Homo sapiens: one gene and its partners. The protein of the gene in region 2 interacts with the protein of the main gene of each other region in a pairwise test. Each region holds a gene or a part of one and is shown on either strand. Other genes may lie near its edges. The genes, in order: EED, JPH3, MYNN, SPRED1, ZC2HC1C, CKMT1A and DES.

The links.
Region 1: the proteins of JPH3 (region 2) and EED interact in binary tests that used the Homo sapiens proteins (3 or more experiments, as listed by UniProt).
Region 3: the proteins of JPH3 (region 2) and MYNN interact in binary tests that used the Homo sapiens proteins (3 or more experiments, as listed by UniProt).
Region 4: the proteins of JPH3 (region 2) and SPRED1 interact in binary tests that used the Homo sapiens proteins (3 or more experiments, as listed by UniProt).
Region 5: the proteins of JPH3 (region 2) and ZC2HC1C interact in binary tests that used the Homo sapiens proteins (3 or more experiments, as listed by UniProt).
Region 6: the proteins of JPH3 (region 2) and CKMT1A interact in binary tests that used the Homo sapiens proteins (3 or more experiments, as listed by UniProt).
Region 7: the proteins of JPH3 (region 2) and DES interact in binary tests that used the Homo sapiens proteins (3 or more experiments, as listed by UniProt).

What each region holds. Positions count from the first base shown.
Region 1 is NC_000011.10:86,257,862-86,262,375, forward strand, and holds part of EED (polycomb protein EED), read left to right. Parts: intron 1-4,514. UniProt on the Homo sapiens protein: Polycomb group (PcG) protein. Component of the PRC2/EED-EZH2 complex, which methylates 'Lys-9' and 'Lys-27' of histone H3, leading to transcriptional repression of the affected target gene.
Region 2 is NC_000016.10:87,639,877-87,644,390, forward strand, and holds part of JPH3 (junctophilin-3), read left to right. Parts: intron 1-4,381; coding exon 4,382-4,514. UniProt on the Homo sapiens protein: Junctophilins contribute to the formation of junctional membrane complexes (JMCs) which link the plasma membrane with the endoplasmic or sarcoplasmic reticulum in excitable cells.
Region 3 is NC_000003.12:169,782,940-169,787,363, forward strand, and holds part of MYNN (myoneurin), read left to right. Parts: intron 1-537; coding exon 538-621; intron 622-1,682; coding exon 1,683-1,769; intron 1,770-3,476; coding exon 3,477-3,739; 3' UTR 3,740-4,424.
Region 4 is NC_000015.10:38,255,241-38,259,754, forward strand, and holds part of SPRED1 (sprouty-related, EVH1 domain-containing protein 1), read left to right. Parts: intron 1-4,514. UniProt on the Homo sapiens protein: Tyrosine kinase substrate that inhibits growth-factor-mediated activation of MAP kinase. Negatively regulates hematopoiesis of bone marrow.
Region 5 is NC_000014.9:75,071,627-75,076,140, forward strand, and holds part of ZC2HC1C (zinc finger C2HC domain-containing protein 1C), read left to right. Parts: coding exon 1-285; intron 286-4,514.
Region 6 is NC_000015.10:43,696,515-43,700,392, forward strand, and holds the end of CKMT1A (creatine kinase U-type, mitochondrial isoform 1 precursor), read left to right. Parts: intron 1-1,499; coding exon 1,500-1,634; intron 1,635-2,126; coding exon 2,127-2,252; intron 2,253-2,458; coding exon 2,459-2,575; 3' UTR 2,576-2,708; downstream 2,709-3,878. UniProt on the Homo sapiens protein: Reversibly catalyzes the transfer of phosphate between ATP and various phosphogens (e.g. creatine phosphate).
Region 7 is NC_000002.12:219,420,787-219,424,572, forward strand, and holds part of DES (desmin), read left to right. Parts: intron 1-41; coding exon 42-167; intron 168-553; coding exon 554-774; intron 775-2,990; coding exon 2,991-3,034; intron 3,035-3,786. UniProt on the Homo sapiens protein: Muscle-specific type III intermediate filament essential for proper muscular structure and function.

The DNA of each region.
Region 1 (4,514 bases), on a different chromosome or scaffold from region 2:
TTTCAAAACAATTATGTAATCCTTCTCATTTTTTTCTTTAAAAACCTCTGTCTTTCCTTTACGTCTCGGAGAACACACATAGTTTACTTTGGCATGTACATTCTCATTGCAGTGCATTATTTCCATATAAACATCTTTTATTTTAGAGAGCCTCTCTGTTACTTAGGTTGACAGGTCCTGTTTTATTTTAAGTCTAGTATCTGTTAGTTATTTTTCCTGATCTTCTTACTCCTCCCACCCTCTACCCTCCAGTAGGCCCCAGTGTATGGACAGATAGTGTTCTAAGGAAATAAAGCCAAATTAAAAAAAAGGTTATAACAGTACATTTTAGTAGGAAAATCCCAGGCTATGTTAGCATATCCAAATCATTTTGTCCAATCATGTAATAATAAATACTACATATGAAAATTCATATTGCTTTTTTATTTTTTAAAAAAGCTTTTGTTTTATAAAGGATTTCCTATAGAATTTCTTAAAAATGCTACGTTTTTCAGGATAAGTTATTTGAAATATTCCCATAAAGGGAAAGCATTGCATTTTGGAAATCACTACCTCTAGGAAGAGTTGATTACTTTTTCTTGTCTCTTGATAACACTAATTGGGGCTCAGATATTTCTGAACAACTGTATAGACCGTAATGCCTCACTTGTTCTAAATATTACAACTTTTTTTTTCTCTTTTCTTTGTTTTTTGGTTTTTTTTTTTTTTTTTGAGACAAAGTTTCGCTCTTGTTGCGGAGGCTGGAGCGCAATGGTGCAATCTCGGCTGACTGCAACCTCTGCCTCCCGGGTTTAAGAGATTCTCCTGCCTCAGCCTCTCGAGTAGCTGGGATTACAGGCATGTACCACCATGCCCGGCTAATTTTTGTATTTTTAGTAGAGATACGGTTTCTCCACATGGGTCAGGCTGGTCTTGAACTCCTGACCTCAGTTGATCCGCCTGTCTCAGCCTCCTAAAGTGCTGAGATTACAGGTGTGAGCCACTGCGTCCTGCCTCTATTTATTTATTTATTTATTTATTTTTGAGACAGAGTCTTGCTTTGGCGCCCAGGCTGGAGTGCAATGGCTCTATCTCGGCTCACTGCAACCTCTGCCTCCTGGGTTCAGGTGATTCTCCTGCCTGACCCTCCCGAGTAGCTGGGATTACAGGCGCCCTCCACCATGCCTGGCTAATTTTTTTTATTTTTAGTAGAGATGAGGTTTCTCCATGTTGGCCAGGCTGGTCTCAAACTCCTGACCTCAGGTGGTCCACCCGCATCGGCCTCCCAAAGTGCTGGGATTATAGGCGTGAGCCACTGCGCACAGCCCAACATCACAACTTTTAACCCTGGTCTTCCTCTATTGTGTCAGTAAGAGCATTTTTAAAAATCAGAAGTTTGAGCATGAATAAGAATTTTGCTCCAAGTGATACTATCAAGAAAGTAAAAAAGCCTACTCAAAAGGAGAAAAAATATTTATAAATCATTCTGATAAAGGACTTTGATTTTTATTTTTTGTTTTTGGAGACAGGGTCTTGCCCAGTCACCCAGGTTGAGTGCAGTGGTGTGATCATGGCTCACTGTAGCCTCAACCTACCAAGTAGTTAGGACTACAGGCACGTGCCGCCATACCTGGCTAATTTTGTAAAAAATGTTTTTGTAGAGATGAGGTCTCCCTGTGTTACCTAGACTGGTCCTCAAACTCCTGGCCTCAAGCAGTCCTCCTACCTTGGCCTCCTAAACTGCTGGGATTACAGGCATGAGCCATGATTCCCAGCTAATAAGGGACGTGTATCAAGAATTTTTATAGCTCAACAATAAAAAGACAGCCCAATTTAAAAATGGCCAAAAGTTCTGAATGACATTTCTTCACAGAGCATACACAGATGGCCACTGAGCACATGAAAAGATGTTTAACATATTAATCATTAAGGAAATACAAATCAAAACCATAATGAAATACCACTTCACACCTACTTAGGGTGGCTGTAATAAAAACGTTAGATACTAACAAGTATTGACTGGCACAAGAAGAAATCAGAGCCCTCTCAGACACTGCTGGTGGGAATGTAAAATGTAACTACTTTGAAAAACAATCTGGCAGTTCCTCAAAATGTTACAGAGTCACTAATCCTAGATGTTTACATATGTATGTATATCCTAGGGTTGTGTGGGTGGGGGTGTACATATGTATCCCCAACAGAAATAACATGTCCATACAAAAGCTTGTACAAAATTGAAATCAAGGAATCATTTTTACAGCACTGTTAATTTTCACATGTATTACTACCTCTGGGGTGTTTATGTGATGCATTTATATTCACAGACAGAATGAACATTGTTATATTTCAAGCTTACATGACGTGTCTTTGCTTTACATTCTTTCTTTTTTTTAAATACTGTTTTAGAGACAGGATCTCACTCTGTCAACCAGGCTATAGTAGAGTGATGTGATCACAGCTCACTGTAGCTTGAGCTCCTGGCCTCAAGCAATGTTCCCACCTCATCCTTCTGAGTAGCTGGGACTACATGTGCACACCACCATGCCTGGCTAATTTTTAAAAATTTTTTGTAGAGATACGGTTTCATTATGTTGTCCAACCTGGTCTCAAACTCCTGGCCTCAAAAGATCCTCACACCTTGGCCTCCCAAAGTGCTGGGATTACAGGTGTGAGCTACTGCTGTACATTCTTTATTAATGTTTAATATAACATTGCTCAAATTATAGCTGCATAATTTTTGAAGAGGGACTGTCATTCTATAAAATTGTGCATGATATATGTAGTTATGTTTTCAGCTTACTGTAAAAATCATAAATCTCAGTCCCCTTTCAATTTTTTAATGTGAGTATGGTGAAGGGAAAAGCTAGTATCTTGTTCTGTGGGATAAAATTGCTTATGTCAAATCTGTATTTTATTTCAAAAGTATATTTCCATCAAATTAGGTTATTTAAAGAAAGTTATTTGAGATAAATATGCTTAAAATATTTTTCAGACCACATGAATATTTCTGAACTTACTGTCTTAGTCCACTTTAACCTGGCATTAGAAAGTAAGAACAAGAAATTGAACTTGAAGCCTTTTTTTTTTTTAATATATAATTGGAATTAATTCATTCATAAGAGTGGTACTCTCATGACCTAACGCTTCTCATTAGGTCTCATCTCCCAACACTGCTGCATTGGGATTAAGTTTCCCAACCTGCTTTTTCGGGGGTTCATTTAAGCTGTAGCATTCTGCCTCTAGCCCCCAAAATTCAAATCCTCAATCAGATATGGGTGAGACTCAAGGCAGGATTCCTGCTGAGGTAAATTCTCCATCTGTGGGTCTGGGAAATCAGGCATCTTATCTATTTTCAAAATACAGTGGTAGGATAAGCATAGGATAGACAGTCCCTTCCAAAAAGGAGAGATAGGCAAGAATAAGGGTAACTGGTCCCAAGTAAATCCAAAACTCAACAGAACAAACAAGATTAAATCCAAGGCACCAGAATAATCTTCCTTGGCTCCATGTTTTGCCTTCTGGGCATGCTGGGTGTGGAGTTTGGGCCCCAGAGGCCTTGGGCAGCCCCATCTTTATGGGTTTGCCACGTGCAGCCCACATAGCATCTTATGAGTTGGAGTCGGGTGCCTGCAGCTCTTGCAGGCTGGTGGTGTGCCCTGGTAGCTCAGCAGTTCTGGGATTTGGGGGATGGCTTTTTCCCCATGGCTCCACCAGGTGTTGCTGTAGTAGGAACTGCTGTGTGGCTCTGCCCTTCTGAAAAGTTTCTGCCTGGAGCCCCAGGCTCTTTGTGATGTCTTTTGAAATCTAGAGAGGAAGCCGTGCCTCCACAGTTCCTGCATTCTCTGCATCTGCAGACTTAACACCACATGGACACTGCCAAGATTTGCTGCTTGTACCTTCAGAAGCTATGGCCTGAGCCATACTTGAGCCCCTTCAAGCTATGGGGTGACCAAAGAGCACTGCCTTGGAATAGGGGGAGCAAAGTGCTGAAGTGGCCCTGGACAGTGAATGTAGAGGTCCCATGGGTGCTACTCTGGAAACCTTGCCCTCAAGGTCTTAGCTATGTCTTGAAGATCTCTGAAATGCCTTTGTGGTCATTATCCCATTGTCTTGGTGAATAGAACCTGCCTTCTCTTCCCTATTAATCTCCTTAGCAATTAGTCACTTAGCTACATCCTTAATATTCTCTCTCAAACATGCTTTTTTATTTTATATATTTTTTGAAGAGACAAGGACTTGCTATGTTGCCCAGGCTGGTCTTGAACTTCTGGGCTCAAATGATCCTTCCACCTCAGCCTTCGAAAGTGTTGGGATTACAGGTGTGAGCCACCACACCCAGCCTGCTTTTTTTTTCTTTACATGGCCAGGCTGAGAGTTTATAAATGTTTCTGTTTTGCTTTCCTTTTTAATTACAAATTTCACCTTTAGATCATTTCTCATTTTATGATAAGCAGCCAGAAGAAGCCATGCATCACTGTGAATGCTTTGATGCTCAGATATTTCTTCTGCCAGGTATTGGATTCATTGCTCTTAAC
Region 2 (4,514 bases):
ATGGGGGGACCACGTCATTTTATCCCCGATGCCTTCACTTTTCAGCTCTTGTTCCCATCTGTATCTGTAAGCTGGAGCATCCCTTGATGGAGGAGGGATCTCAGGGAGTGGGTGAGCCTCTCCTCTTTCCAGGGTCATCCTCCACTTTGCGGGGGCAGCCCACCTTCCTGGAGTTCCAGCTGAGGGGGGGCCCAATTTAACAAGCACTTTGGGAGGTTGAGGTGGGCGGATCATGAGGTCCAGAGATTGAGACCATCCTGGCCAACATGGTGAAACCCTGTCTCTACTAAAAACAGAAAAAAATTAGCTGGGTGTGGTGGTGCATGCCTGTAGTCCCAGCTACTCAGGAGGCTGAGGCAGGAGAATCGATTGAACCTGGGAGGCAAAGGTTACAGTGAGCTGAGATCGCGCTACTGCACTCTAGCCTGGCGACAGAGCAAGACTCCATCTCAAAAAAAAAAGGGTTGTCCGGTTACCTGTGCATGCCAGGTAATCGACAAATGCTTTTTATTTTTATTTATGTATTTGTTTAGAGACAGAGTCTTGCTCTGTCGCCCAGGCTGGAGTGCAGTGGCATGATCTGTGCTCACTGTAACCTCCACCTCCCAGGTTCAAGTGATCCTCCTGCCTCAGCCTCTTGAGTACCTGGGATTACAGGCACCCATCACCATGCCTAGCTAGTTTTTTTGTATTTTTAGTAGAGACAGGATTTCACTATGTTGGCCAGCGTGGTCTCTAACTCCTGACTTCAGGTGATCTGCTCGCCTCGGCCTCCCAAAGTGCTGGGATTACAAGCATGAGCCACCCCACCCAGCCAACAAACGCTTTTTAAATATAAGTATGTCCCATGCAGCGTGTCCCCTAAAGAACGATGTGTTGTTCATCTGAAACTCAGATGTTACCAGGCGTCCTGTGTTTGATGTGACAACCCTGTCCACAGCCCTGGCACGGAAGGGGCAGTCGCTGAGGGTGCAGTCTTGGGGTGAGGGTCCCTGTGATGGCAGCCTGTGTCCAGCTTGGACTGGCCATGGGAAGGCCACTGTGTGGGCGGGTCTGGCCTTGGTAAAGGGCCACCCCCTGAGACCCACCGAGCCTAGTTCCAGTTTCCTCCTCACAACCCCAGCCTGGAAGGGCGTTCGGGTGTGGAGCAAGCCACAGGGTTTCCCCCCAGTGTGGTTCGCATTGGGGTGCCGGGTGGTTCCGAGTCAGCTGCCCCCTCTGCCTCCTCCCCGTGCCCATCACAACTGCCCCCAGTGCTGGGACCTCTGGGCAAGAGGCTGAGGCTGACACTCTGGAAAGGTGTGCAGTGGTGTTGTGGGGTCCCTGGGGTCCGGTCCACATACATCCCTGCTTGCCCGGCTCTTGGCATCCTGTAGGAGAAGGTGCCACAGCCTAGTGGGTGGGAGGGCAGGAGCCCCATCACTGGAGTCGGAGGTTGCTTTTGATGTTGATGGCAGTGAGGTTGCTTCTGATGTTGATGGCAGTGAGGTTGTTTCCGACGTTGATGGCAGTGGACTTGCCTCCAGGTTAGCTGCCTCCCCAAGCAGCTTTGGGGGTACAGAATGACCGACCAGTGTGGGATCCCAAACATCCTATCCCCTTGCCTGAAAGTGGGACGAGGCTGAAGCTGACCTCTCGCTGAGACCACCTCATTCGGCCCCGTCCTCTGCTGCCACGTCCTTCTTCCTGGTACCCCCCTTCTCCAGCCCCAAATAAGTCACGTTCACAGGATCCCCAGCTCAGGCTCTGCTCCTGGAGAAGCTGCCCTCAGAGGCTGCGTTGCCGATTCCTTTTTCAACGGAGAGGCTGCAGCGTGTGGCAGGTGCCACCATCTCTTGGAGTGAGGCAGCCTCAGGGGCTCTGTCCGGGGCTGCAGCCTGATTGGTGATCTTTGCACGCCCCTTCTCTGCCCTGGCTGGGCCATATGCCACATGGGGCGTGAGGGGCCTGCAACACAAGTCCCTCTGGGGGCTCGTGATGTGGTTGAGCTGGAAGATACATTCTGGAACATCTAAGACCCCAGCCACTGTCCTGAGTCTGGATGCCGCGGGTGCCGGGCATGGGGGCTCTGGGCCCGGGCCCTGGGGTGCTTGGAGGTGCTGTGGAGGAGGGGTGGGGCTGGCTTGGAGCCCATGGGATTCGATTGGAGGGTGGGAGTGTGAGAGAGGAGAGAGCGTGAACAGAGCCTTGGACAGAAAAGCCTGGAAGGATCAGGACCCTTTGGGGGGTGGCGGGTGAAGGTGGCGGGGTGTGGGGATACCCTGGGGACGGACAGGTCACTTGAGGCTACAGGACTTTGAATTCCACACTTAGTTTGGATCCCACCCTCTGGTGTGGGGCGTGTGAGTGGAGGGGGCCTGGCTAGGGAAAGGGGGGGGGCAGTGGGGAGTGGAGGGCTGCTTCGCTCCGAGAGATGGCGGCACCTGCCACCCGCTGCAGCCTCTCCGTTTAAAAAGTGACTGGCAGAACAGGAGCAGCTGCTGCCAGCTCCTGTCCATTTTGTCCTCTGAAAAGAGAGGTCGGGGTGGCCAGGTCCTCATTTTTCAGGAGACAGAAGAGAGCTGAATTTTTATGTCAAATCTCTTGGTTTTGAGTTGTTAGCAGGTAATTCCAATGTTTTATGAAAACAGCGGTGGGACGAATAAAACCTACGTATCAGTAAGTCTCGGCCTCCAGGCCTCTGGTCTGCAGCCTGTGCCACCGTGAGTTGGAAGAGTGGTGGACGGACTCTGTTCTCCCCGCAAAAGCCCTTTCCAGGGTGGCACATCCACGCCGTTAGTGCCCGGCTGCAGGGAGAAGCTCAAATGACAAATGAGGCTTGAGGTTTGCCGCGTTGGGCGTCGTGCTGAGGCCCAGCCGTCCTCACGGTGACCTTTGGCATGAGGAGTCCTGGTTCCACTCTACAGACGAGGACACTGAGGGCCAGCGGGGCCCAGAAACTTCCCTGAGTCACAGCTCACAGAGCAAGACATGGGCCCAGGTCTGCTGACCGGGTTTCCTTTTTATTTTATTGTGGTAAGAGAAATACAGAATGTACCACGTTAGCTACTTTTAAGTATACAATTCAGTGGTATTAATTACCTTCACGGTGTTAGGTAGCTGTCATCACTGTTTACCTCCAAGGCTTTCCCATCATCCTACTGCAAAACTCTGTCCCTATTCAACACTGACCCCACAACCCTCCCCAGCCCCTGCACCCACCGCGCTTTCTGCATCTCTGAGCGTGACTACTCTAAGGACCCCGTGTACATGGAATCATCCGATATGTGGCCTTTTGTGCCCAGCTCAGTTCACTCTGTGTAATGTCTTCAGCGTTCATCCACATTGCAGCCTGTGTGAGAATGTTCTACCTTTTCAAGGCTGAATGATGTTCCATCGTATGGACGGACCGCATGGCGTCTGTCCATTTACCAGGTGATGGACTTGTGGGTTGCCTTTCCCTTTCCAGCCATGGAAACAGTGCTGCTGAGAACCCAGGTGCACAGGCAGCTGCTGCAGTCCCCACCCTCCCTTCTTCTGGGGATATCAGGTCTGCTGATTTTATGTCTGAAGGTCATGGGCCACTGTCCCTTCCCTATGCCCTTGAATCTCTTCCATGGTGTGTCCACTGTGTGGTCTTCCTGGATACCTCCAGCAATGGGGAGCTCACTGTCTCCCAGAGCAGCCCATTCAGGGCTTAGTGTGTAGCCCACACCTGTGTCCCTGTAGCTGCCACTCATTAGCCTCCTAACCCAGGACGCGTTTCCTTGTGCCCTTGGCAGGGGCTCCGTATTCACTCTGGGTTCTGTGGTCCTCACTCTGCACCACAGACTCTGATGCCTCCCTTCTCCCTCCCCGATTTCCAAGAGAGAACAAGATCTAGCCATGAGAAGCAGGATGGAGGTGTCTTCAAAAACAGCCACTGGTGATAGAAGTTGTAGGAAGGTACCATGGTCTGTCTGCCTCCACGCAAACCTCACCAGGTTTCATCAAGATAGCACACCAGGAGTGGTGTGGCTCATGACTGTAATCACAGCACTTCTGGAGGCTGAGGCAGGATCACTTGAGCCCATGAGTTAGAAACCAGCCTGGCCAACATAATGAGACTGCCATCTCTACAAATAATTTACAAAGTAGTGGAGCATGGTGGTGCACGCCTGTAGTCCCAGCTGCGCAGGAGGCTGAGGCAGGAGGATCGCCTGAGCCCAGGGGTTCCTGGCTGTCGTGAGCTGTGATGGTCTCACTGCACTCCAGCCTGGGCAACACAGCGAGAACCTGTCTCAAAAAACACAAAACAACAGGAAGCTCAGACAGGACTGTGGCTGCTTCAACCCTGTCCGTGGCCAGGCTGTGCCCCCTCCTCTGTCGCTGGGCACTCACCCCTCTCTCATTTTCTCCCCAGGGACCTACCAGGGCCAGTGGGTCGGTGGCATGCGCCAGGGCTACGGCGTCCGGCAGAGCGTCCCGTATGGCATGGCCGCGGTCATCCGCTCACCCCTGAGGACGTCCATCAACTCCCTGCGCAGCGAGCACAC
Region 3 (4,424 bases), on a different chromosome or scaffold from region 2:
TCAGCTTCCTAAAGGGTCATCTCCTATAGTTAGGGTTGGGGAGTGGGTTTGGGTTGAACATGGATTTTTAAACTTCTTAGGACCTTTCCTACACAGATATTCTGGGATTTTCAAATAAGGTAATTCAGATGCAAAATAGCAGTTTGGAAACAAATTGCTTTTTTAGGGTACATTTTTTAAAAGACTTCCCTACATACTTTTATTCTCCTTTATTAATATAGTAGATAGCAAGAATAGAAATGTGGGTTTATGAATTGACATGTTCTTAATCATATAAAAATCAAATTCCTTGCCCAAATCATCTCTATTAGAAGGGACATTTTGAGGAATAAAGTTTTAATATATGAAAACTTATGAACAGTATACAATAATTACTAATATTCATTTACTTGGATCACTGAAAATACCTCTAAAGTACAATATAGAGAGATTTTAATTTAAATAATATTCCAGAAAAGCTTACTTTAGATTATTTGTAATTGATAAATATTATATTGGTATAGTACACCACTTCGCTATCTTTTATTTTCCATCTAGGTGAAAAACCATACATATGTGGTATTTGTGGGAAAAGTTTTATTTCCTCAGGAGAGCTCAACAAACACTTTCGGTCCCATACAGGTCTGTGTTTAGGGAGAACGTATTATTTTTTGTTCTCTCTTAATTTCTTTTTATGTAAACCTTGACTTTTAAGCCATTATGGACTATATGGTATTTAGTCATACTGTACCTATAGCAATATCTTAATGTATAAATATCAACTTATTTGCTTATTTTGTTTTTTTTTTAGTTGTTTGGAGTATGAATTAAATTTGTTAAAGAATTGTGTTGGTTTTCCAAGAAATATGCCAGATAATCAATAGTTTTTAAATGATTTGGATTAAATTGCACAGATATACCAAGAAATGAAAAGGAATAGGTAATACCAAGATAACATCAGATTTTCTTACTAAACAGTGTTTAGTATGCAATTTTTAGGAACAAATTTTAATTTTGACATGCTTATTGTAAAAAGTAGTTTGTAAATTGTATAAAGAAAATATTGAATGTAAAAAATTTTAAAACAAAGGAAAATGCCACTTTGAAAGAGTACTGTTCTGACATTCTCTTTTTAAAAATTCCTTCTCATAATTCCTACCTAGAATAATGTGAGTACTTAATAGAGATTTAGTAAGTTTTTGGTGACTTTATATTCTGACGCGCTTTAGTTTACACCATAAAGCACTGAACAGTTATTTCCAAAGAAGTGTAATATTGTAGCATGCTGTCAGTATTTTTAAGGATTTTCTAATTTGCCAGGTACCTGAGAGCAGAAACCATGATTATTACACTTATTTTCTCCCAGCTGTATCTCTTAGCCAGTGTCTGGCATATAACTGACACTCACTAAATGTTTCATAGAAATACAAGAGTAGGCTTTTGTTTGTTTTAGTTTGCAGATACATTTCTGTTTATGAAAATGCTCAAGTTTTCTTGAGATACAGATTTTTTGTATAAAGGAGTGTCTAGGTTGTATAGAATCTTTCATTTCACTATATTATAACCAGGTGATTAAAGTGACAATTTGAAACCAAATTTAAACACTATAATAATTTTTGCCTTGTGTTCATAAACATTGATATTTTTGTCTTAGCTAGCAGCTTTTAAAATATTGAAATTTAAACTTCTAATTTGTTTTTCAGGAGAAAGACCATTTATCTGCGAATTATGTGGAAATTCTTACACAGATATTAAAAATTTAAAGAAGCACAAAACAAAAGTCCATTCTGGTAAATGCTTGTGTTTTGTTTGCTTGTTTGTTTGTTTTAATTTGGTGCTCATATTAGTGCTATTCCTTAAAATGCTGAGATGAGATTTACATTTAAGCAGTTTAAATTAGATGTCTATTTCAAAAACTAGGTATATACATGTGAGGAAAGTAGCTTTTTTGCAGAAACATTCACTCTGGATTTTTCATATTGAATCTCTTATTTAAAAAAAAAAAAAAAAAACTTGAAACATTTCCTCCTTTGAAAACCTGACTTAATAACAGTCCCAAGCATGAAGGAACATATAAGCAAGCTATGTGTCACTGTTTCCCATACTGGAGTCTGGATAACTCAGGGTTTACTATGGTTATTATGAAAAAAAAGGGGGGGGGGGTGGTGTTATCATGAACACTAGTCCAGAAATGTTTAAGAGGAAATAGGGAAACAGGTAGCCCTACATTGTTATAATATATAAAAATGGAAAGCCAAACAACAAGTTTTGAGTCTATTGGTTAAAGTGAATTCTTGAAAAAGTTTCCCTGTGCTTACCATTTTATTCCGTCATTATTCGACATGACACTAGGCCCTTCTGGTGTGTAAATACTTAAACATCGTAAGTATTAAGTTAGAAACATCTAAAAACTGCAGTAAGTCATTAATTTAACCACTTGTTAAATTTCTGTAAAGTGTACTTTCAGGGAATATGAAGTTAAACAAGGCATAGTTCTGGTACTCAAAGCACTTACAACCTGGTGTGCGAGACCAGAAACCTAAATAAATAATTAAATAAACTAAATAAATAGGGAAAATGTAGGGCATAATCGACACAAAAGTGCTAAAGAAGATACTATGTTTTTCTGAGGTAAGTACTAAAAAAAACTTAATTTTAACTTGAAGGATGGAGAAGAGTTCAAAGATGGAGATGGGAAGAGAGGATTCATTCCGGGCAGAGAACACTGTAGAGAGTCAGTGGGACAAGAAGGAAACCTTAGCTAGTTGAAGTGAAGAGTAGTTTGGGAAGAATACAGATAATTACAATTTTACGAAAGCAGTTTTGTCTGCGTGACAAGGACGGTGAAACCAAAATCATGTCAACACTTTAGAGTAACGGAAGCATGTTAAAGCCATTGGAAAATTTGAAGGCAAAAGTACATCTTTAGTCAGTGTGCTGATTGCTCCCTTGAGTAGAGCAGAATTTCTCACCTCTGAAAATATATGAAAGTGCCATACATACTGTTCTGAACTCACAGAATAATATGAACAACTTATTAAAAACATTCAGTGAATGAAAAGAGTATTTCTTATCACTGTTTAATATTTTGAGGGAGTTAAAGAAGTATAACGACATTTACTCTCAAAGAATTTACAGTCTGGTTGAGGATTCAAGGCATACCTGAGTAGAATGTTAAATGGCAATAAGAGAGATAGATGCCACAAGGCAGTATATGAAAATTGACAAATGTGTGATTAAGCCGATATAACAGCTCACCCTGTTTCATTCTTAATCAAGTCCATTTTTTTAAATGGAGTTGGTGCTTGAACTTAACCTTGAGGCCCAGATTGAATTTACATAGATAGTGAGGAGGGCATATGTACAAAAGAGAAACCGCTTGAGTAAAGGTATGGTGGTTGGAATGTAATTTCTGGGAATGGTAAGTACATTAGTCTACCTCAGGGGTTTAGTTTTGTTTTAAAGATAATGTAGATTTTTTTTTCCTTCCATTCTAGGTGCAGATAAAACTCTAGACTCCAGTGCAGAGGATCATACTTTGAGTGAACAGGATTCCATACAAAAAAGTCCTTTATCAGAAACTATGGATGTGAAGCCTTCTGATATGACTTTACCATTAGCTCTTCCACTTGGGACTGAGGACCATCACATGCTTCTGCCTGTCACGGATACTCAGTCTCCTACATCAGATACATTGTTGAGGTCAACTGTGAATGGGTATTCAGAACCACAGTTGATTTTTTTACAACAATTATACTGACTTTGTAAGGAATATGGAATTGCTAAGATATCATTGGTAGCAAACATCTCTGGTAAGGTGCATATATTCATATTAAATTCCCATTCATTTGAGTTGTGACCATTATTTTTCATTCACTGAAGTAAAAGCACCTGATGCTGCATCACAACTGCAATGTTTGTTTTTATTTTTGGCTTTATGTCTATACTCCACAGAGAGCTTTTTAAGTAATGAATTATGTAGCACTATTTTGGGTGGATGAGTTTTATTTTCTTTTAAAGCTGCCTTAATTCCATTTTTATTTTGCATTTTAGAATTGCCCTTCATTTACTAAATCAGCCAGTTAATGTGATTCAGTTGTGACCTGTGGGATTTTAAAATTTTCCTGCCCTCATAATTTAAGCAAAATCCACGATAGTATCAGCCCAAGAGTGTGTTGCTATTTGTAAGCCCCATGGATCAATACATAAACTATGCATAAAAATAAAATTTCATATTTTCGCTCGTAAAAATTTAGGCGCTGAATAAGAATTGTGCTATTTCTCTATTAATATATTGTTAGAAATAACTTTTCTAATGAAACAAAAATGTTTCTCAAAATCTAGAAAAGTGCATATAAATTTTTGTTCATTTAGAACTGAGTATTCTGGAGAAAACCAATGGTCAGCACTTTTGGTTTGAGTTATCTGAGATTGTATTTTCAAAA
Region 4 (4,514 bases), on a different chromosome or scaffold from region 2:
CACCGATGGCAATCTTCAGTGAGAGGATTGCTTTAAATATTTTTTTTTCATCTAAATGTACTTAGTATGGGACAACTTGGAAATTATCTCACTCACCCAGACTTTTAAAATCGTTTTTTCACAAATTTATCCTGCTTTATTAATAAATTATTCCCTAGGAGCTTTGTAATACTTTTTAAGTTTGGGCAGGGCGATAATAATATTTAGCATAATATTTTGGTAAACTCTTCATGGGAACAAAATCTTGGGGGTTTTACTTTAAAAAACTCTATTATATTAGAAAATAATGTGTTCATCTGATAATCAGTTTTACTAGAGCCAGCATTGTTTGCTTGTGCATTAGATAAACCACAGAGTGAACTTATTTGGAATGTAGCTTTTAATATAGTAATTTATGTCTCATCTTTAATAGGTGAACCGTTTTGAAATGGAAATTTATTATTTATAGTCATTATGAAGAAAGATACGTATCATGGCAGAAGCCATTAAGGCCTTAGCACAGTTTAAAACTGCCCTGTAACATGGATTTTATTTGGGCCTTACATTTTTTTCCCTTTTCTCTTTTTTAAAGCCATTGCTCATAGGGATTTAATTACAGTAGGGACTATTTTTAACATTCTTTAGTTTCTTTTTCACCTGATTTCAACCTTCAAGAAAAGTGAAAATCACCAGTTTCCTGGGAAACCATTAACCCTTTCTAGATAGCCATTGTGGTAAAATCCAGTAGGGCCTCATTCTGAAATCCTCGAGTACATGCTTATTATTTGAAATTAAAGTTTTATGTAGAGAAATGGATAACTCCTAGGCTGACTGTGAGAATATATTTAATCAAGAATTAGTGGGGGATCTGTTATGTGTAGGGCTTTGCTTTAATGCCAAACCAAGTAAGGAAGAAATAAATTAGAATAAAGCATTTCTTAGATTGTTTCACATTTATGTTTAAAAATCTTACTTTTCAAAAATAGTAAACATACTCTAGAGCAAAAGAATTTGTGTTATAAATAGTAGAGGAAATAGCCACATACATGTTTGTTTTGTAGGTAATTTGCACAGAGACTGTTTAATACTCCAGTCAAATGTTTCCGATAGATATAACTGTACCATATTTTACATTATTGAATTAGCCTTCTAAATAGAGTTTTAAACATTTAAAGGCATATTATATAATACTTAAGAGTCTTTGTCCTTTGGTATTGAGTGTATATAGCACTGCATGTCCTTTTGTCAATTTGGCCAAAACATTTGGAGAAGTGAAGTAGCTGAAATAATAAGCATTTGGCTTATTAGGTTCACGTTAGCCAGAAACACTTCCTGTGTCAGTATTAGGCTTTCTAATAGCAAGTTGGGATTATATTAGATTTTGGAATTAGGTTAACTAGAATTAGACCATGTATGATAAACGTACTATGTTGTAATCTGAGTTTGAACTGTTTTTCCGTAAATAGAAAGCAAATTTTTATGGTTATATCATTTAGTGCCTCATAAAAAATATACCCAGTGGTGAGTTATTTTTGATAAGTGTAAATAAACATATGTTCACCCCATACATTTTACGTATGTATATGTATGTACACACACACACATATATATATATATAAAATTGGAAAACATTCTAGAAATAAATGGAAGCACTGGAAAGCTGTGTAATATTAAGCCATCTAATGTTTGTTTATATAGATGTGGTGTATACATAATATAAAAATTTGCTTATTATTCAGTTGGCCTGTGTAAAAATCAGCTAAATGACTGCATACTTGCTTCAACTTAATTTCCCTCTGCTTTCTCACTTAAAACTTTATGATCCTGAATTATATATTTTAAACACATTATGATACCATACCTAGAATTCCTCTCCTTACAAACTTTTGTAAATTTGTCATTTTTCCCCAAAAGACCTTCTCTCTTCCCCTCTTTCAACACTCTGTCCCTCTATGTTGCCTCTGTACTTCGTACATATGTATATTAGTTTTAAAATCATATAATATTGTGATTATTTACTTATTTCTATGACCGCTATTCTGTAATTCCCTACTTTTGTTTGTATGCCTAGCACAGTGCTTGATGGCAAATGCTCTACAAATGTGGTTGAATTAATGGAGCCTCATTACCTCATTTTTTTGTTTTCTCTGAATTTATGCATTTGAGATCATTAGCTGTATTAGAAAAAAAGGCCGAAAAAGAGTATGGGAAAAGTAAATTATTACCCGTTTAAGAAGGCTTACCTTTTTTTTTAAGAAAAGACAAAAATTGGCCTCATTTTTGACATGTTTTGTTTCTGCAAGTTTGAGAAATAACTTAGATCAGGCTTAAAAACTGTCCTAAAGTGCTGTTGGGATGTTTGGATGTGCTTGGCCTCTGAGTTATGTGGTGTATCTGAAGACCCGTGTTATATCCACAAGAAGGTAGACATTTGTGTGTCTGTCTTTTTTGGCATAGGAAGCTCAAAATTTAGGAATATGTATCTCCAGCTGTTTATCAGTTTTAAGTCTTTAAATTGCTCTCCCTTTCCCCCATGGTTCCACATTAGTGCCAAGGGTGAGGAACTGACTAGGGATAAAGAAGTGAAATTGATCAGGAAAGGGTAAACAGCAGCAGATTCCGTGATTTTATACTGCAGCTGTTGGTGACTGAGAACTGCCTAAGGGGAAAGTGTAACAATTTAGCCTTTTCTCTGGTGTTGTATAACTTGAACTTGACTAGTCTTACCCAGTTTGGGGAAATGATTGGTAAAGACAAGCCTGCTTTTCTTCTCCATCTTTCAGTAGGAACAGGAACGACATTAAAAATGCCAATTTAAAAAATGCTTCACCCCATGTAAGAGTAGTAGTTTATTTCAGATAATGTACAAAATGATCTCTAAAGTGAGTAATAATTTATTTGCAATTCTGCCATTAAATAACAGCTGCTAAAATTTTGGTCTACATGGAAACCTTTCTTATGATGTTGGTGATGAAACATATTCATTTATTAGATTTTTACTGTATGCCAAGCACTGTTATAAATGCTTTATGAAAGCATTATGTAGTTTATATATATACATGTGTTTCTTCTCAGTGGAATGGAATTGCACAGTGGGTACAATTGTAGCTTAATGTGAATATTTTCTTAAGTCGTTAAATATTCTAGAATATAATTTTTAGTGGCTACATTATGTTCAGTGTATGATATACATTAGTTGTAATCAGTCTCCTATTGTTGGATATTTTAGTTATTTTTAAACAATGTTGCATACCATCCTGAGTTCTGTCTCCATCCAGATCTCTTACTTTTCCCTTGAGATAGTCTAAGAATGGAGTTAAAAGAGAGGAAAATATTTAATTTTATTCTTTCTGTTAAATTGCCCTCTAGAAAAGAAGTATTTAGTATATGAGAGTGCTTAAACTTTGAAATGTCTGTACAGTTGTCTGAATTTTTCTTTGCCAATTTTGAAGGTAGAAAATGAAGTCTTATTTTTTAAATGCTTTATGGTAAAATAAAATTGATTTAAAAACTTATTAGGTTGTTTTGCGGTAACTAGAATGTTTTTAAATGCTATATTATAAATAGAATTTAAGTGCTCATGTAAAAGCCATTTGTACATCATTTATTTAACTCTTACCATCTTCTGTGCAGTATGGTATAGTCTAAAGAACACTGGACTTGAAATTGGGAGATGGATTTCTTTTGTAGCTATTTTTAATTTATTCTCTAATCCTGGGCTCTGTAGGCCTCAGTTTGCTGATTTATAAATTAAAGAATTTGGACTAAGCATCATATGTGCCCTTCCTTTGTTGATGGTGTATGATTTAGACTTTGTTAATTTTATTATATTGTTATTTTTGACATACTTAAACAAAAGACTTAAGAGTAGAAGTGGTAGGAAGATTAGGTAAAAGCATGCATTTTGAACAATTAAGATACAAAATTTGGAAACAATTGGTATATTAATAGTCTTTTAAGACTTACTTTGGGCTTAATAGCCATGTATCTTTGATGACACAAAATTTTGTACTACTCAATTTTGTTTTTTATGTATTTATTTATTTTAAAGAGGCAGGGTCTTGCAGTGTTGTCCAGGCTGGAGGGCAGTACAGTGGTATGATCATAGCTCACTGCAGCCTTGAACTCCTGGGTTCAAGTGATCTCCCACCTGTGCCTCTTAAGTAGCTAGGACGACAGGTGTGCCACCACACCTGGCTAATTTTAAAATTTTTTGTGGTGATCGGGTCCTGCCCAGGCTGGTCTCAAATTCCTTGGCTCAAGTGATCCTCTTGCCTTGGCCTCCCAAAGGGCTGGGATTACTGGCATGAGCCACCATGCACAGCCCTCATTTTAAAAAAGAGAAAAAAAGTATGGCCTCCATCTGTGGATGAATAAGTAAACAAAGGCTATTGGGCTTAAACACCAACTTGATTAGTTCTACAAGGAATATGCTAACAAGATACCAGTCTTTATGCTTTACTTACAGAAGTAAGTTTTTTACTAGGTCACTTATACAAATCAGTAATGTAACACTAGGGGATAACTGTATATTA
Region 5 (4,514 bases), on a different chromosome or scaffold from region 2:
CCGCCTTCAGAAACACCAGTCGGTGCTTTGCAGGGATCCGCCAGAAATTCCAGCCTGTCCATGGCACCAGACTCCTCAGGTTCCAGCGGCTCCATTGAAGAGCCACAGCTGGGTGAGTGCAGCCACTGTGGGCGCAAATTCCTCTCGTTCAGGCTGGAGAGACACTCCAACATCTGCAGCAGGATGCGGGGTTCCAAGAGGAAAGTGTTTGACTCCTCCAGGGCCCGGGCTAAGGGCACAGAACTAGAGCAGTACTTGAACTGGAAGGGGCCAGCTTCAGCCAAGGTAACAAGAGCCTTATGGATGTGACTTGGTGTGGTGATCATTGTAGGGGTCTGTTTTGTCATCATCAGTTTTCTTTAGGGAAAATTCATGTGTCATGTAGGAAGAATTGACGTCTAGAATTAACATTTCTTGATTACTACTGTATGCCAGCATTGTGACGGGAGCTTTTCATGTGATCTCCACATTATCTCTCATTGTATCAGTTCAAAAATCAAGACTTGGACAGGCTAAGTAACTTGCTTGAGGTCACAAACAGCTTTAAGTGGCAGAGTCGGCATATAAATCTTGGTTGGAATGACTAAAAAATCTAGACATAGAATTTGTGTCCTTTGGATTATAAAAGTAATAAAAGTTTACTGTAGAAAATTTAAAAGACACAAAAAATCTAAAGAAAAAAATGCAGCCTTTTGTCACCTGGAGAGAACTCCTCACTCTTTGCAATGTATTCTGCCACTTCCCAAGACTAGGATCTGTGACCATTCCTTTAACTATTCACTCTTTTAAGGTTAGCTCAGTGTTAACATAGCTTCTTAGTAAATAGATGAAACACAATTAAGTTTGGAATTCTTTTTCTGCCCATTTAGAATGTAAACACCTTGAAGGTAAAAAGGACTTTCTTTCTGGTTATCTTACAAACCATGCCCTTGCCAATTATTTCTCACTTTAGAAAAACCAGGTTGGAAAAAGTAAGGGTTTCGTGACACTTACATGATAAATTTAGGTGAACTTCATAGGCACATTTGGACATATCTGGAGAAGATTGTCTCATAAATGAATGACATGTCAAGGTTGTGCCACTTGGTTTATAAAATGGTTATTTCTCAAGGTGTGGCATGCTGACAAACTTTATTTTAGTAGTTTTAGTGTTTAGTGTTGTATTAGAAAAATTGATTCGTCGTTTAGTGTTATATTAGGAAAATATAACAATATATTAAGCCCCTGATTTCCAGGGATCATGAATTTACAGAAAAATATTAATTAGTTGTAAGGATGAAGTGAAAGTGCAGATGATTGAAGTTTGGGAAAGCGTAGATCATATGATCTCAGAGGCCCCATCTAGTTCTAATATTCCAGAAGAATAAGAGAGTGTCATTCTGTTTTCATTTCTTCCCAACCCTCCCTCCGCTGTGCTGGCACCTCTTGTCCATTGGCACTTTACAGTTTCTGTGTATTTGCTGGAGCCTTTAAAAACTCACATTTATATGATGGTTGTTAGAAGAAATTGTTTACAATTAGAGTTCTTTCTTTTAGTAGTTTGGAGAAATCACAAGGAAGTCCCATCCATGTTCAGAGATCATCTCCCTGAAATCTAGTTTCCAAAGAAGAAATCAGCATTTTGCTCTTGCAGATAATAATATGATCACCACTTACTGTTTTTTCCTGTTTTCTTTCAGTTCAACCCAGTAATCCACTGGGAATTCACTCTATGTCCCACTGTAGCGATTTATTTTTGGCCAGAGCCTAAAAGAATCTTGTGTTTCTTAAATTCGTAAATACAGTTACGGTGAAGCAAAATAATTAGGTTCCTGAGATCAGATGCTCCAGCTTTATGGCAACTAGTTTGTGGGAATGTGTGACATTGAGGACACCAAGACAGAAGGGACCTAGACTAAGATGCACCTGCACCACCCTGGTAATGTCTCAAATCTTATTCCACAGTGCTGTGCCTTTGGAAGCTGAGTGGTTGTACCTTCCTGTCATTCCTCTAGAGTACTCAAGAACAGGTGATTTTCCTGGTATCCTTTAATCTTCACGTAACTCCCAGCAGACGTACACCCTGTCTCTCTCCTGGACTGTAAGCATTTTTGAGGACAGGGAACATATTTTGTGCTTTGTGCTTAATAAGTGTTAACTGAATAGAATTTCAGTACAATGAGGAATAAAATTATAGGAATTAGAGTATAAGAAGTAAATTACTAAAGGATCTCATATACTTGAGGAACTTTCCCCTGATCAAATTCTTTGAGAGGAACTTTCCCCTGATCAAATTCTTTTTTTGAGACCGAGTCTCGCCCTGTTGCCCAGGCTGGAGTGCAGTGACGCGATCTCGGCTCACTGCAGCGATCTTGGCTCACTGCAGCCTCCACCTACCGGGTTCAAGCAATTCTCTGCCTCAGTCTCCTGAGTAGCTGGGATTACAGGTGCCCGCCACCACACCCAGCTAATTTTTGTATGTTTAGTAGAGACGGGGTTTCACCATCTTGCCCAGGCTGGTCTTGAACTCCTGACCTTGTGATCCACACGCCTCAGCCTCCCAAAATGTTGGGATTACATGCATGAGCCACCGTGCCTGGTCTTCGAATTCTTTTAAAGGTTCCTGGATACCATCGCTAATACTCTCTTGCCTTCTTGTCTGTTTTGGCAAGAGACTTTCTGGAAGGATCCTTTCTTTTCCTTTGATAGTATCTCTTCCTATTATTCATCATTAACAATGCCAGATCACCAAGAGCTAGTTGTCTTTTTTCTCTTTAAAAAATTTAATAGTGTTTGCATGCATTTAAAAAACATGTAGTACTGAATGACCTATAATGGAACCCCTAATTCAGCCCCCGGAGGCAGCCTTCAGTTCTGTTAGATGGTTCTTCTGGTCTGCCTTTCCATATTTCCAAATAATATGCTTATTTTCTTGATTTATCAATTTTCTACATTACCTGTTTTTTTTTGTTTTGTTTTGTTTTTTTTGAGACGGAGTCTCTGTCGCCCAGGCTGGAGTGCAGTGGCTTGATCTTGGCTTACTGCAACCTTCACCTCCCGTGTTCAAGCAATTATTGTGCCTCAGCCTCCTGAGTAGCTGGGCTTACAGGCGAGTGCCACCACGCCCGGCTAATTTTTGTATTTTTAGTTAAGACAGGGTTTCACCAAGTTGGCCAAGTTGGTCCTGAACTCCTAACCTCAAGTCATCTGCCCACCTCGGCCTCCCAGAGTGCTGGGATTACAGGCGTGAGCCACGGTGCCTGTTCTACCTGGTAACTTCTTATGGAAGCTGGGAGTGAAGTTCTCTTTCATATTCCCTCTCTCCTACTGTTCTCTTTCTCTTATCCTTCCACTGTAGTCGAATCACAATTTTTGGTTAAAAGTAGTTAGCTTTCACATTGTAATGATCAAGTAAATTTTGTTCATTAATGAGTGAACAAATTCTGTCTCTGCCCACATGTACCTAAAATTAATAATGGACGTATGTTTTCATTTCCTTCATTTTCTACATACCTGTCTTTTTCTCCCCCGCAACGATCCATCTGATATCAGACATCTGTTAACGTTTTTGTAATGCTCAAACACCTCTCATAATCTATCAGTTTGATTTTTTAATTCTGAAAACCTCCCTTCAGCCACTCTGATCCCTTCTGCTCCAACCTGGACTGGGTATTCTCTAGGCCTGGTGCAAACTCATTCTCTTGGAACTTCTCTTTGCTTCTCTTCTTTGTTGGGTCCTCTGTTTCCAGCATCCTGTGTCTTCCTTTTTCTTGCATTACTCCTTCCTTTGCTGAAGCTTACTAAGAAGGGTGCATAGCAGGTATATTGTCTTGGAATGAATGACACTATCTATATGACAGGCTCCCATTTGATGATTTGGCTAGGTACAGAATTCTAGGAGGAAAATGATTATCTGTTAGAACTTTTAAAGTATTTCCCACTAGCTTTTAGCATCCAGTGTATTGTTGTGAAATCTAATGCCATTTTGATTCCTGTTCCATTACAAGAAACCTTTTTTTTTAAAAGGCTACGGGATTCTCTATTTATTTTGAAATTCTGAAACTTTACAATAATTGTGCTAGATACTTGGTAAGCCATTTCAATCTCAAAATGTGTGACCTTTAATTCTAGGAATGTTAATTGTATTATTTCCTTAATAATTTTCTCCTCACCAGGTGCTGTGGCTCACGCCTATAATCCCAGTACTTTGGGAGGCTGAGGCAGGTGGATCACCTGATCTCATGTGTTCAAGACCAGCCTGACCAATATGGTGAAACCCCATCTCTACTAAAAATACAAAAATTAGCCGGGCGTGGTGGCGCACGCCTGTAGTCTCAGCTACTTGGGAGGCTGAGATAGGAGAATCGCTTGAATCTAGGAGGCTGACGTTGCAGTCAACCAAGATTGCGCCACTGCACTCCAGCCTGGGTGACAAAGCAAGACTCCATCTCAAATAACAACAACAACAAAAACAAAACAAAACAAAACAACAATAATTTTCTCCTCGTGCTTTCTCTGTTCCTTCTGCAACTCTT
Region 6 (3,878 bases), on a different chromosome or scaffold from region 2:
ACCAGCTGGGACCATACTGGGAAAACCAGGACATGTGGTCACACTAAGATTAGGAAAAGAGTGTCAGGAACCTTAGAAAGTGAAGAAGGCAGGTAATGCAAAGAAGGAATAACTGAGATGGCACGTCAGTGCCTGGGATGTGTGCAGTGGGATGGTGAGGTGTGCAGATAAGGAAAACATTCGAGCTTAGATTGATGTTGGCGGGGAGAGGTTGCTGTGTTCATGACTCTAATATAACCACCCAGTTCTGAGACAAGGTAGGCCTTGACTCTGGATTCTATCATTCTTGTTAAAGTATCGGGTCTAGGCTTTAAGTTGAGAGTTCAGAGGGAGACTGGGGAAGGTGGAGGATAGAATGGTTCGAGTTCTAGAATATGTGGCTCTAGATGAGAGGTTGAACTGAATCATCAATCCTACATGGATTGGGTCTCCGTATTCAAGTCTACATTAGAAATCCCCATAAACTCAATTCAATTCTTACTGTATGTTCTCAAACATACAGTTCTATTTTAGGTTTGCAAAGAAAAAGAGCTCCTCTTTTAGATTCTGAGAAGTTTCTACTATTTTTGGCAAGTAATAGATAACATATTCTGACTATGAGTGGGTAGGGAAGTACCTTTAAATTATATGCCTCAGTTTCCTCATCTGTAAAATTGGGATAATGAGATTTTCTACATTTTAGGTTGTTGTGGGGATTAAGTGAAATACAGGTAAAGTACTTGGTCCACAGTAAGTGCTTAATAAGTGTTAAAGTGTTAGCTGCAATATTATTCTGGATGGAAGAGTTTCCCCCCATGTTCAGCACATAAGATATCCCTGGTGGCATGGTTCCTTCTGAACTACAAACAGGATCCCTTTACTCATGTTGGATAGTGGTCTTTGTGATCATCACTCTGCTAGATCCCTTGTCTCTTGAACTCTAATAGTCATCTTCATGACTACATGGTTAATGGAAGCAAAATGCCTTCCCCCTGTCCCCTATTCCTATGAATCTGGCTTTCCTGCTCTGTTTTCATCTTTCTCTGCATTCACACAGGTGCTCCGTTCACAGCTAATAGAACGTTATCTCACCTCTTCCTGGCAAAGCTTACACCTTCATCTTCTGTCTGAAAGGACCCTTCCAAGCTCTAGGCTCATTAGCAAAGCAAAGATAATCGATGCATGCAGACCTCATTGAATAATCAGTCCTCTCTCAGTTCAGTTTACCACCTCTGTTCATTTCCCTAGATCATCCTTAATACACCACGCCTTCGAGTTTTCTTCTTCCACATAAGATATTTTTTCACAATCTCATTATTATGCACATCATAATTTTGCATCATGCATGCATGAAAACAATAACAAACCTTTTTCATTTAAAAAAAGACCAATGTCATTCATTCACAGCCAAGTTTCTATTCTAGACAAATTTCTAGTGTTCTTGTGGGTCTAGCTAAGGGAGGGTCCAGGGTTAATGAAATATCCCTGATTTTTCATTAATAAAAACTTTGTGGACTCAGGTGGAGAGACTTATCCAAGAACGTGGCTGGGAGTTCATGTGGAATGAGCGTTTGGGATACATCTTGACCTGTCCATCTAACCTGGGCACTGGACTTCGGGCAGGAGTGCACATCAAACTGCCCCTGCTAAGCAAAGTAAAGGAGTTGTGGGGTTACAGAGGGGTGTGAGTAAGGAAGGGTGGGTTGTGGATGGGGAGGGAGTGGACCCTTTGGAGAGGAGCCAAACATGTTGTGGCTAAAGGGTCAGAGGACAGGCCAGGCACAGTGGCTCATGCCTCTAATCCCAACACTTGGGAGGCCAAGGCAGGCAGATCATTTGAGCCCAGGAGTTCAAGACCAGCCTGGGCAACCTGGTGAAACCCCATCTCTACTACAAATACAAAAGTTAGCTGGGTGTAGTGGAGGCTGAGGTGAGAGGATCACTTAAGCCTGGGAAGTCGAGGCTTCAGTGAGCTGTGATCACTCCAGCCTGGGTGACAGAGAGAGACCCTGTCTAAAAAAAAAAAAAAAGAAAAAAGGAAAAAAAAAAGTTCAGGAGACAGAGCTCTGAGCAGGTTCAGGGCTCTTTCAGGTAGGACTAGTCTCTGCCTCTATTGACCCTGCTCCCAATCCCTATCTCCTCTCTAGGATAGCCGCTTCCCAAAGATCCTGGAGAACCTAAGACTCCAAAAGCGTGGTACTGGAGGAGTGGACACTGCTGCCACAGGCGGTGTCTTTGATATTTCTAATTTGGACCGACTAGGCAAATCAGAGGTGAGATCCTAAGGGATTAGGATGAGGAGAGGTATAGGTCTGTGGGGGCTGAAATATGGCAGTGAGTGAGCCTCCGGGATGTAACATAATCTGAAATGAAATTCAGGTTGAGTGGGGAGGCAATTGGAAATGAGCAGGCAAGTCAGTCAGTGATAAAGAAAAACTCAGACTGTAGGAAGCAGAGATCAAAGATTAGTGTCCTTCAGGTGGAGCTGGTGCAACTGGTCATCGATGGAGTAAACTATTTGATTGATTGTGAACGGCGTCTGGAGAGAGGCCAGGATATCCGCATCCCCACACCTGTCATCCACACCAAGCATTAACTCCCCATCGCCAGCTGATGACTCAAGATTCCAAGGAGTTCTGCTCATTCTAATGATGGCCCATTCTACTTGCTCTGGACCTGCCCTCGCATCCCCTGCCTCCATCCTAGTAAAGACTCCTTGCTATGCTGCAGCTGTCTGTGTTACTTCTAATGGTGGGGTGAGGAGGGAGCAGCCTTCAGGAAATGAAAAGAGGCAGTGGGATTATTTATGATGGAAAGAGACTCCAGATATGGCAACCCAGGAACACTGATTCTCAGGTGGGTGGAAAGCATTAACATTTTACCCATATTCCTCATCAGCTTCTGAAAATAATCAGGATGCACTTCTGTTTGCACTTTATTCATTATGACTTAAGATTTCTCTCCCCACAATCTCCTTCTACTGTAGAGACAGGCTCATAGCAGGTGGCCAAGGAAGCTGATAGTCAATACCAGGGACCAGGAAGGTCGTGACCAGTCCTGGAGGCCCCAGGCTGTACTTCGACCTATAATAGACAGGGAATGGGAGTAATATCACAACTCAGCTCTCCAGGAGCATTGATACTTGGAAATTAGCGCTCTGCCTGTAGACTCCTTCACTCCAGGGATCTCCCTGGGTGCACTCTAAGAGCCAGACAGCACCAAATTAGGGGTTTGATTCTGGGTCAGGAGATGGAGGATCAAGCTGTGCAGCTGGGAACTCACCTTGCTGTTCTGGGCTCTCCTTTCCCTCATGTTGGGCCCATGCAACTGCTCGTCGCTGCTCAGGACTCAGAAAGGCCATTTGCTCAGGAGTGACAGCCACAGCCTGAGCACTGGCGAGACTAGATAGTTGGATGGGACTAAACACCACCTGAGGGCAGGGGTAGGAATCAGTGCATGCATGTAGTCCCCATTGGGCCCTGGCTCTCCTGTGGTCACCCCAGTCCATTAATACTTACAGCAAATTTAGGAGGAGGGATGACAGAAATGGCAAGAGGAGTAACGCCCTGGATCTGTCCCCGCAGCAGTGCTGAAAGAGCCAGGTCTGGGATCCCAGCTGTTGAAGCAAGTGGCATCCAAACATTGTCTTAGACTGACCTTCCCTCTCTTCAAACCTATAGACCTTCTCTAACTACTCCCAAAGTGCCCTATCATAGACCTTCCCCAATATGTCTCTAGCCCCTTATTTAAACACCCTCTCAGGCCCACACCTGAAGAATTGCAGGGCAGTCTTCCATCCAGTCCACCCATGGTATAGAAACCAAACCAACTTGCACCAGCAGTGGCCCAGCTCCCCACCTGCTATGGTGCCAATTTCAGTGAAGATCTCAGGCCCCCAG
Region 7 (3,786 bases), on a different chromosome or scaffold from region 2:
CTGCATCCTTCTCATTTTTGGGCCCCTTTCTCTGCCCTTAGGTGTCAGACCTGACCCAGGCAGCCAACAAGAACAACGACGCCCTGCGCCAGGCCAAGCAGGAGATGATGGAATACCGACACCAGATCCAGTCCTACACCTGCGAGATTGACGCCCTGAAGGGCACTGTGAGTCCCTGCCCACCTGGCCAGGCCCTGCCCCTTCCTGTCTGCAGTTCACACCCTCACTTTGTGACCTTGGGCCCATCATAGATCCTCTCTGGGCCTTCATCTACTTAAATCTACAATAGGGGTAAAACCAGACAAGTGGATTCCAGTTGGATGCTAAGGAATCAGGGGTTCCTGGGCATCTACCTATGTGGGGACTGTGAGGCTGAATGCAATGTTCCTTTGTATCTATTTTATTCTGAGTGTTCACATATAGACTTAATTTGAGTTCAGGGTTCAACATGGCCTGGACCTGACCATCTGGAGTTGCCTGCCAGCCCCAAAGCTTTCTTTGGGCTGCTAGTGTCCTCTTCCCTTCCTTGACCTGGGTTCCCCCTCTCCTGCAGAACGATTCCCTGATGAGGCAGATGCGGGAATTGGAGGACCGATTTGCCAGTGAGGCCAGTGGCTACCAGGACAACATTGCGCGCCTGGAGGAGGAAATCCGGCACCTCAAGGATGAGATGGCCCGCCATCTGCGCGAGTACCAGGACCTGCTCAACGTGAAGATGGCCCTGGATGTGGAGATTGCCACCTACCGGAAGCTGCTGGAGGGAGAGGAGAGCCGGTGAGGGGCCAGGCAGGAGCCCGAGTGGGAGGTGCGGGGTGCTGGGTGGTCCATTTCTGTCCCCAGGAGGCTCGAGATTACTGATTACCTCAACAAGACCTGGAAACAATTTTTTTTTTTTTTGAGATGGAGTTTCGCTCTTGTCGCCCAGTCTGGAGTGCAATGGCACCATCTTGGCTCACTGCAACCTCCGCCTCCTGGGTTCAAGCAATTCTCCTGCCTCAGCTTCCCGAGCAGCTGGGATTACAGGCGCCTACCACCACGCCTGGCTAATTTTTGTATTTTTAGTAGAGACGGGGTTTCACTATGTTGGGCAGCTGGTCTCGAACTCCTGACCTCAGGTGATCTGCCTACCTCAGCCTCCCAAAGTACTGGGATTACAGGCGTGAGCCACCGCACCCGGCGTGGAAACAATTTTATACAAGAGGCCACTGCTCTATTAATTGCAGAGAATTAACCAAGGCCACCTGGGTAAAAAGCAATTTAATTAACAGCATTTATAAAAAGAGAAATATAAGTATTCCCTTATCCACCTTCAGAATTAAGAACCAGCAGCAAAAAAAACCATATTCAGCAACCAATAATAAAATATTACTGCCAGTCAAGGGAGAGATGAAAGCAGAATGGGGAGTGATGAGGAGGGAAACGGAGGGAGCAGATAGAGGCAAATAGAGAGAGGGAGGGAGAGAAGCCTTGCACAGGGATAGGCTAAGAGAAGGTAAAGAGATGCATACAGAAGGCATGAGTTTGCACACACATGCACACATGTCAGCATATGCACATGTTCGGAGGAAAAGACACAGACGTCATGCTCAGAGCAACCCACCTCTAGACACAGAAAACAACATACAACTGGAAAGGGACACCAGGGAACCTTGTGGGATAACAGAAATGTTCTATATCTTTTTTTTTTTTTTTTTTTGAGACAGAGTCTTGCTCTGTCACCCAGGCTGGAGTGCAGTGGTGTGATCTCAGCTCACTGCAACCTCTGCCTCCCAGGCTCAAGCGGTTCTCCTGTCTCAGCCTCCCTAGTAGCTGGGATTACAGGCGTGTGCCAACACACTCAGCTGATTTTTTGTATTTTTAGTAGAGATGAGGTTTCACCATGTTGGTCAGGCTGGACTCTAACTCCTGACCTCAAGTAATTCGCCTGCCTCAGCCTCCCAAAGTGCTGGGATTATAGGCATGAGCCACTGTGCCTGGCCTAGAAATGTTCTATATCTTGATTTGGACTGGTAGTTACACAGACGTGGACATTGATCAAAACTCATTGAATTGTACATTAAAGATCTGTGCATTTCACTGTATGTAAATTTAACCTCAATTTAAAACAGATCAGTTACTCCAAAAACTGGTACCCCTTGATACTCATAAAAATAATATCTGAAATTTTTAAAAAGGAGCAGACATGTTTAGATACAGGTACAAACATAAAGAGAAACTTCAGATTTTGTAAAATCACGTCTACATATGATGGCCTTTGAAGGTAGCTAAAGGCATGTTGCATTTTCCCAGCATTAGGCCTAAATAGTAAGCTCTCAGAACTGGCCTGGCTGGAGGGTGGGCATGAGCAATGGATATCACCCACAGCTGCTACTAGTACCAACTTCAGTGCCAGGAGCAAGAAGGAAATCCTGGTGCTCTGGAGGGCGCGGTGGGGTTGCACATCCTAGTGTCGTGCCAGCAGTTCACAGTTGAAATAATGATCCTTCCAGAAGAGACTATTCCTGGGACAGCTCTAGCTGGCCTTCGACCCCATTCCTTGAGCAGTATGGGTGGTGGGAGTGCTGGGGTCCGTGGGACTGGGACAGCTGAGGATGGTGTTTAGAAAGGACCAGGGTGAGCCTTGATGGGCGGTCTCAGGGAAAGATGGGAGGGTTCTTTTTTTTTTTTTTTTGAGACAGGGTCTTGTTCTGTCCCCCAGGCTGGAGTGCAGTGGTGCAATCTCCGCTCACTGCAAGCTCCACCTCCTGGGTTCGCACCATTCTCCTGCCTCACCCTCCTGAGTATCTGGAACTACAGGTGCCCGCCACCATGCCCGGCTAATTTTTTGTATTTTTAGTAGAGACGGGGTTTCACTGTGTTAGCCAGGATGGTCTCGATCTCCTGACCTGGTGATCCGCCCGCCTCGGCCTTTCAAAGTGCTGGGATTACAGCTGGGCCCGGCCGATGGGAGGGTTCTTAACTCTTAGGAGGTTTTGTCTCTTCCCTTTTAGGATCAATCTCCCCATCCAGACCTACTCTGCCCTCAACTTCCGAGGTGAGTGTCTGCTGGCAGGCGGAGGCTGGAGTTGCAGGGGCCAGGAGTCCAGCATGGGCACTGCCCAAGGCCAGCCAGGAGGGAGGATGGGACCCTGGGGCTAGGGACAGACCTGGAGTCTGGGGAAGAAAAAGGGGACCACTGCGGGTAGGTGGGGGAGTTTAGGTAGAGGTGGATGAGGCAACTTATGACAGAGAGAGCTTTTTATGTGATTATATTGTATTGTATTTACCATGTCCCCTGCACCTTCTTGGAGTATTGGGCCTCAGGAAGCAGCCTCTGTTCTGAATCCCAAACTCTGAAAGCAGGAGTGTCCTTGGGGACCTGGCTTCAGGAGCATCTCATACCACCTGCCCTCTAAGACACCCACAGCCCATTGTCTGTTTGGCACATTGCCAAGCCCCACCTTGGCTGCTTGTCGAACACCTCCAGTTTGCTGGAGCAAGATGTTGGATGCACGTTTGGAAAAAAATGCCAAATCTTAGCAAAGCCAAACAATGAAAAGAACGAGCTCTTAGGGCACTCTGCCATTTTGACATTAGTAATACGCAGATCGGGTGGCTTTCCAACCCCAGAGAGCAGAGAAACACACGATAATGATGCATTAGGAAAGCAAGTCGGAGTCCTTGGCAGCTTCTCCTTTCCTAGATCAAACCTTTTCTATCTTCGATGTACATTTCCATCAGGAAAAAAAACACGCTGCGCTCCAGCGAGTCACAACATTCATCACAGGCTGGTTGCTAGCTAAGGAA